Linked DNA regions of Homo sapiens: region 1 is reported to be linked to region 2. The links are microRNA targets in miRTarBase. Many come from high-throughput screens and were not tested one by one. Region 2 holds a microRNA gene; the other region holds the end of a gene's coding sequence.

What was found. The annotated mature microRNA hsa-miR-3617-5p reads AAAGACAUAGUUGCAAGAUGGG and lies in region 2 at 2,200-2,221, shown strand. An mRNA with a match to its seed (bases 2 to 7 or 8) in the 3' UTR can be bound and repressed. Matches are read on the target gene's strand: a 7mer-m8 pairs with bases 2 to 8, a 7mer-A1 pairs with bases 2 to 7 and ends in A, and an 8mer does both.
Region 1: miRTarBase lists NLN as a target of hsa-miR-3617-5p. Seed matches in the 3' UTR shown: 7mer-m8 at 37-43.

Annotation. Positions count from the first base shown.
Region 1 is chr5:65,822,148-65,825,557 of GRCh38, reverse strand. NLN (neurolysin) reads right to left here. Exons shown (of 13, transcript NM_020726.5): 13 at 1-2,777. The coding sequence ends at 2,643. Among named protein-coding and RNA genes, the nearest start is that of NLN, 100 kb to the right of the region's middle.
Region 2 is chr20:45,703,961-45,707,370 of GRCh38, reverse strand. It overlaps MIR3617 (microRNA 3617), which reads left to right and starts at 2,191; the gene lies at 2,191-2,269. WFDC10B (WAP four-disulfide core domain 10B) reads left to right here and starts at 2,352. Exons shown (of 4, transcript NM_172006.2): 1 at 2,352-2,453; 2 at 2,810-2,874. It overlaps WFDC13 (WAP four-disulfide core domain 13), which reads right to left. Exons shown (of 4, transcript NM_172005.2): 2 at 2,777-2,927; 3 at 1,444-1,508. The coding sequence ends at 1,466.

The sequences.
Region 1 (3,410 bases), not on the chromosome of region 2:
GAGGGGGACAAAGTCTACATCAGGTGGCAAAACGTCAAGACATTTCTCTTCTCTGCAGCATCGTAAAACTAAACCTTTAGGATCATGCCTACTATCCATTTGCATAAGATGTTGAAGATTTTATCCTTCACAACATAACAATGCCTAAAAAAAAAACAAAAAACCCGAAAGAGGCCTAAATCCCCTGGATCAATTACCAGGAGAGACCTTATTATATGTGGCTCAGTCCATAAATCTAAAGTGTACATTTGTCCAATTACAATTTACATAGTTATCCACCATTTCAAGCATGTCAGTGATATTCTCTGCTCTGATCTGGAAAAAAAGAACAACTAGACGGATGACCACACTAAAAAAAAAAAAGTTAAGTCCTTTCTTTTGAATTATGCTAGAGAATTTTTAAAAAGTCCTTTCTTTTAAATTATGCTAGATAATTCTTTGAGTATTAATTTTTTTTGAGACTGAATCTCACTCTGTCGTCCAGGCTGGAGTGCAATGGCATGATCTCAGCTCACTGCAACCTCCACCTCCCGGGTTCAAGCTATTCTCCTGCCTCAGCCTCCTAAGTAGCTGGGACTACAGGAACCCAACATCATGCCCAGCTTTTTGTATTTTTGTAGAGACAGGGTTTCACCATGTTGACCATGCTGGTCTTGAACTCTGACCTCAGGTGATCCTCCTGCCTTGGCCTCCCAAAGTGCTGGGATTACAGGCATGAGCCACTGCGCCCGGGCTGAGTTTTAATTTTGTGACTGCTCTTTGGTAGATTTTAAATATTAGAGGTAGGCCCTAAATAGAAAGAACACCATGGTGCTTTTGCTCTCATGCATTTCGGTTTTAACGTTAAAGTATGAAAGAAATATGAGTTCATTTTCATGGATAATAATATAACTTTATTGTGTGCAGCCTTTCCACACCAATTTAGTTTTTCTATGAAATAAGATTTCAAGTGGTAAAGTTACTGTTAAGGAGACACACTGGAAAAAGCTGAAGAGTTTTTTTGTCTGAAACTGAAAAACAGAAAAGTCTAGGGGGAAAGATGTGAGAAAACTACTATAGGCTACAAAGACCACAAAAACAGTTTTGGGGATTAGAAGGGGGTGACATTGAGTGAGTGTGTGGGAAGAGAAGGGCTGGGCAAATTATCTCAGAAGAGGGGGTAGTAGGATTTCAGGTGGATGTTTAAGGTATTTGCTTGGCAGATATAATCTAGGAATCTCCTAGCTCTTGCATTTCCTGCTATCTGTAACTTTATTATGTAGTATAATAATTTTTTATTTAGCACAAAGTTCATTTGGACTAGAGAATCGGAAGGTGCTAATTTTGTCCCCGGCTAGCAAAGTCATACCTGAGGTATGCGCTGGAAAACAACTGGAAGACCTAGGCAGGGGAATTCAAAGTTGTTTTTTTTTTAAATTTTATTATCCTGTCTTGGTTTCCTTATTGAATAGATTTCCACAGGAAAAATACTGTGAGTTTACTGATCTGCTGCAGAATTGGAATTTAGACTCACAATAAAGAGAGTTAAAGATAGATCCAAAGGTTCACTTAAAATAAAAATCACCAGACAGAACAGGCTACTGAAGAGTCTCTTCCCCGTGGTTAAGTTTCATCATACACATAAGGCTTTGGAGCAGCTGTCCTCAAATGCTTCTATCCAAAACCCACTCCTCTTCTGGAGTTTCTGAACCCTTTATGTTCCACATCCACCTCCTCTCTCTTCCCATGGCTCTCTACAGAGCCATTTGTGACATGTCTACCTGACACTTTTGGGGACGTGGTAAGTAAAAGAGGCAAAGTCCCTAACACTTATTAGAAACGTGAGAAGAGAAAAATGTGCTTGGACTTGCTTTAGTATTCTAATTGGCACACATGCCAAAAGACTAACGATCTTGTATGCTGAGGTGGAAATGAGCCTCTAATAAAAGCTACGAAATCCTCTAATACAAGATACAAAAACTTATACATTACACCAGTCTAGCTGAAACATAATTTTTTGATACTCTTTGACTGAACTTTAGACAGAAAAGACAAAACTGAAATGGAGGAACGTAATTTAAGTGTGGCAGAAAGTTGGGAATCATGCGGCCTGATATACAAAGATAAATGCATCACTGAGGCATATTCCCCTGGCCTTGAGGTATGCAGGCAAAGGAGAGGTCACACCTTCCTGGGAGACAAAGGATCAAAGTTGACACAGAGCTCCAAGAAAATATTTACCAGAAGAATGTGATGATTCATTTATCAGTCCAGAAATCCCAAGTACAAAACTTCAAGATACAAGAAGGATCAAATTATATCATATATATGATTCAATTTAAAAATTCTTAGCCCTCTTATATCATATTATCTAGATTATAATAGTAAAAAATCAAGTTACATTCATATGAAACTTTCATAAAAAGAAATCAAATCCAGTTTTATGAAATTTTATAGTACAATTACTTTCTAGTGGGTCTTTTCTTAGGTCACAGTATTTATAATTCCATTTACATCTTTATAATTTTTAAAATTAGAAAACAAAAGGATGTCAATAGAAATCTAAATTTTCACTTGCAAAACTCCCTTCAGTTTCCAGGCCAGTAACACATGGTGATGTCGACTTGTCCTCCAGACATGGACGGCTACCAAAGATCCCCAGTTCACGGAGCATGCAGGCCTCTACTCATTAGGAACGCTTTTTGGTTTGGCTCACGTTTCAAGAAATTGTGGAGCATGTCCATGCCGTCCAGAGATCCCCCAGGTTTCAGGATTAGGTTTCTGTATTTCATTCCAACCTAATAAAATAAAACATCATACCTAATAATTCATGGTTCTAGCAATTTTCCAAATCTCTAGATGCAAAAGAGGAGAGGGTAGGGGTGAAGGAAAAAGGACTTTAGCCTTACTCTGTCTAGATGTTTTCTCTTGCTCACAAACAGCTCTGTAGTATTTATTTATTTTGGTAGCTAAGAGATTTGGAGCTTAAAACTTCAGGTCTTCTACACTGTCCTTTATTATGGTCTTGTCTCCTTAGATTCTAAGCAGTGAGCTGACAACATGAACAAACAAACAAAATATAGCCAAATGGAATATACAACAGGTTCCTATTTGCTATGCTATCTCTCGTGATTTCAAAAGGCTTAGAAAGCAAGTGTTCACGAAGGCTACAAATAGCCTTCTGGGTACTCAGAAACAGTAGCATGGCTACTGTCAAATGGTTTCTGCTGCTTTTATGATGGGCTCATTCAAAACAACAACAACAGAACCCTCTTCCTTATGGATGAGAGAAGAAGGGCTGTACGTGCCCCGCAGGGGAGGGCAAGACATTTTTGTGGGTCCGATGCTGGGAATGAGGACCTTTGGAAAGTTTTCTTTGGGGATGGAGGTCTGGAATTTTAAAACGTCACAGTTCCTCTACTTTTATTTAC
Region 2 (3,410 bases):
TGTATGTAAGAGACCTGCCTCACTCAGGTCAACTCGAACCACATATGGTCAGTTTCTGGTAGTAAAAGAGTCTATAGATTTTTCTGAACAGTATTTCCTGCCCTGGATCAGGGGTCACTAGGTTATGGTAGGCCAAAGATAGGACACTACAAAAGACAAAGAGAGGGACTAATTCTGTCTGGAGTGAACTGGTGAAGTTTCTATGGAGTGTTTAATTTAATAGAAACCTTGAAGCATGAGTGGGAGCTCATCCGCAGCATGGTGGGCTCACCGGAGCCTGGGCAAGTGCTCATGCGTCTAAACTGCTCCACTGGCCTCCACCTGCTACTATTTATCACGCTCCTTTGTACAGGGTTAATAAAAGGACTAAGCTGAAAGACCACCATTCTAATTTGGAACATCTGGAGACATCAGAAGGCCCATTAGAAGACCCTAAACTTCTAACTTTTTCTTTCAAATACTCTGAAACGAAATCCACCAACTTATGAATACTATCATTTTTTTGGTGGTGGAATTCCACAGGACTCCATTTTGTTCACCATTCTTGAAGCATCAGTAAAATAATAAAGATGATTCCCACTCCCTCTTTTTTTTTTTTTGAGACGGAGTCTCACTCTGTCGCCCAGGCTGGAGTGCAATGGTGCACTCTTGGCTCACTGCAACCTCTGCCTCCTGGGTTCAAGCAATTCTCCTGCTTCAGCCTCCTGAGTAGCTGGGATTCCAGGTGTGCACCATCACACCCAACTAATTTTTGTATTTTTAGTAGAGACAGGGTTTCACTCTGTTGGTCAGGCTGGTCTTGAACTCCTGACCTCGTGATCCGTCCACCTTGGCCTCCGAAAGTGCTGGGGTTACAGGTGTGAGTCACCATACCCGGCCCACTCCCTCTTTTTTCAGAGAAAAAACTGGAACCTGAATGAGTGACCTTGTAAGTGAGTTGCTGGCAGTTTCTACCTTTGCAGAGACCAAGTTCTTCCATCTACATGGCCTTGTGTTGTCCTCCCAATACCCCAAGGCATGGATGTTTTCTTCATATTTCACATGAGGGAGGTGACTGTCTCAGAGAGGTACAGTGAGCAGACCAAAGTCTCAGAGCGTGAAGGGCTCAGCTTGAGTCCCTGCCCAGGGTGCTGTCAACCCGGAGGCTAGAAGAGCTTGTTCCTTGACAAAGCCTCAGATCTGAGTGCCCTGGGTTCCCCCTGGGCCATGACTTGGTTCCTTACATTGCTCTGTGTTGCAGAATTCATGCTGGACTGCACCGTGCCTCCCCCAGGGAGTGCAAAGATAGCCCTTGGAGGGGAATGATGGAGGAGGAGGCAATCAGGTAATGAGAGGCCATTCTGAGCTTGTGGGAATGTAGTGCCCCTGGTGAGGCTACAGGAAGAAAGTGAGCATCCCTGGGAATCTCACATGAGGAAGGCGAGACCAAATCCCTGTACTTACAAAATGATCTAGGAAATATGCCTCAGTTGGCAGGCATGATGACTTCTGAGCCCTTGTGTTTGATTCTGTAGAAGAAAAATATTTTCAAATATTAACTAGTGAAGTTTTACTTTTAGAGATATATATTTTTCTTTCAATTACTTCCACCATTAATATTAGACCATGAAGCTCATTTCTCTTGCCATAGGGAAGGCAGAACCTCAAAAAACTCAATGACACCAAAGAGTTATATTTATGCTTCTGCATTCCAATGTAGAGCATTGAAAGATGTGGAATTTAATTGCAAGGGCTAGTCTCTTCAAAGAGAAGTGGTTGCCTAATCCCCAAAATTCACAGCAATTATGTTGGCAAGTAATGTTTTAAAGCTTACATGGATTGTCTATTTTAACCTCACTATTATTGTTCCAGTCTTAAGGATGAGGAAGTTGATGCCCAGAGAGAGGTTAATTAGCTTGTCTAAGATCACTTAAGGTCACTTAGCTAAGAAGCCAGGATTTGAGCCCAGGTGTTTGGCTTTGAGCCCATGCTTAATCACTCTGCACATTATCTCATGCTGGGTATTCTGCTCATGGTAGGGAATACAGCAGGGAACAAGACTGCCAGGCTTCCCTCAAAGGGCTCATTGGTTGAGTCTTCCACTGTGAGTCTTTTGAAATTTCATATGGGCCTTGCAAAGCAGGAAAAAACAAGAGTACTTATTTTACTCATGAGAAAAAGAAAGTAAAAAAGAGGGAATTGTCTTACTCAAGGTCATAGAAAGACATAGTTGCAAGATGGGATTAGAAACCATATGTCTCATCAGCACCCTATGTCCTTTCTCTGCCCTGGGAGCACACTCCATTTAGCAGGCTTGCGGCTAGTGTTAATGTCTGGACAATTAATCAAAACTTCCTTTGGGCTGGATCTCCAGAGCCCAAGAACACTGGTGGCCAAAGGATGGTGTCTTGTGAAAGGAGGGCAAGCAAAAGTGTAGGACAAATTTTGCTTTGGGATTTTGGTTACACCTGCAGGTACAGTGTCCCTGGGATAAGGGTGGATTCTGGGTCGGGGGAAGGTCTGTGGATAAAGGCATTTGTGGGTGTGTTCAGAGAGGCAGAGTCAGAAATTCACGGATATGGTGATGGGATGTGGTGATTGGGAGGGGAGGAGGGCTTTTCTAATCAGGACTTTTATGGAAATTATCCTTGGTCAAGAGAAGGGGCATGTTGGCAACATGGCCACCAAGGAAAAAAAAAAAAAAGGAGAGATCCAGCACAGTTGCTGGTAAGGGACTCTTCTGCTGGGCTCCCACCAGCAGCTCTAGGATCAGACCTGGATATGAGATATCTCTTACCTGTTGCGCTTTTGAAATGTTTCTGATGAACAGACTATCCCACAGAAGGAGGAACAGCACTGAAATCCTTTCTCGCAATCTTCCTGCATTGTACACAGGTGAGTACAGTTTTCAGGTGCTGATATGCAGGGTGGAGGTTCCAAGATATACTCTGGAACACAGAACAAGTAAGAGAAGGGCCTCACCAACAGGCTGGAGTAATGTTCAGAACTCAGAAAGCCCAGGGAACTGCCAGGAAACCTGCCACCCTCATCTGCCTTGCATGGTTCCAGGGTGGTGGCATCAGGTTTTGTCCTCAGCTGCTGCCTTCCTCTGAGTTCTGAGCAGGGAAGCAGGGCATGGATATTTTTTGATCAAGAACAGAGTTTGGTAGAACCCTGCACCCATTGGTCATTCACCATCCTTGTAGTTCAGATGCCAAGCCCCCATTGACTATGGTTGTGTCCATATCAAGGGTATCAATGGTGTATGTGGTGAACAAGAAAGAGGTTTGTATGTTCGTTCTGCACTGATTCATTGTGTGGTCTTGAGCAAGTTGTAGAGCTTCTCATTAACAACATAGTTTACCCTGGGGTTAACCTAACATGGGTTATTTGTGTACAGGAAGAATGAGTGAAAGGTAAGTTTTGGTAAA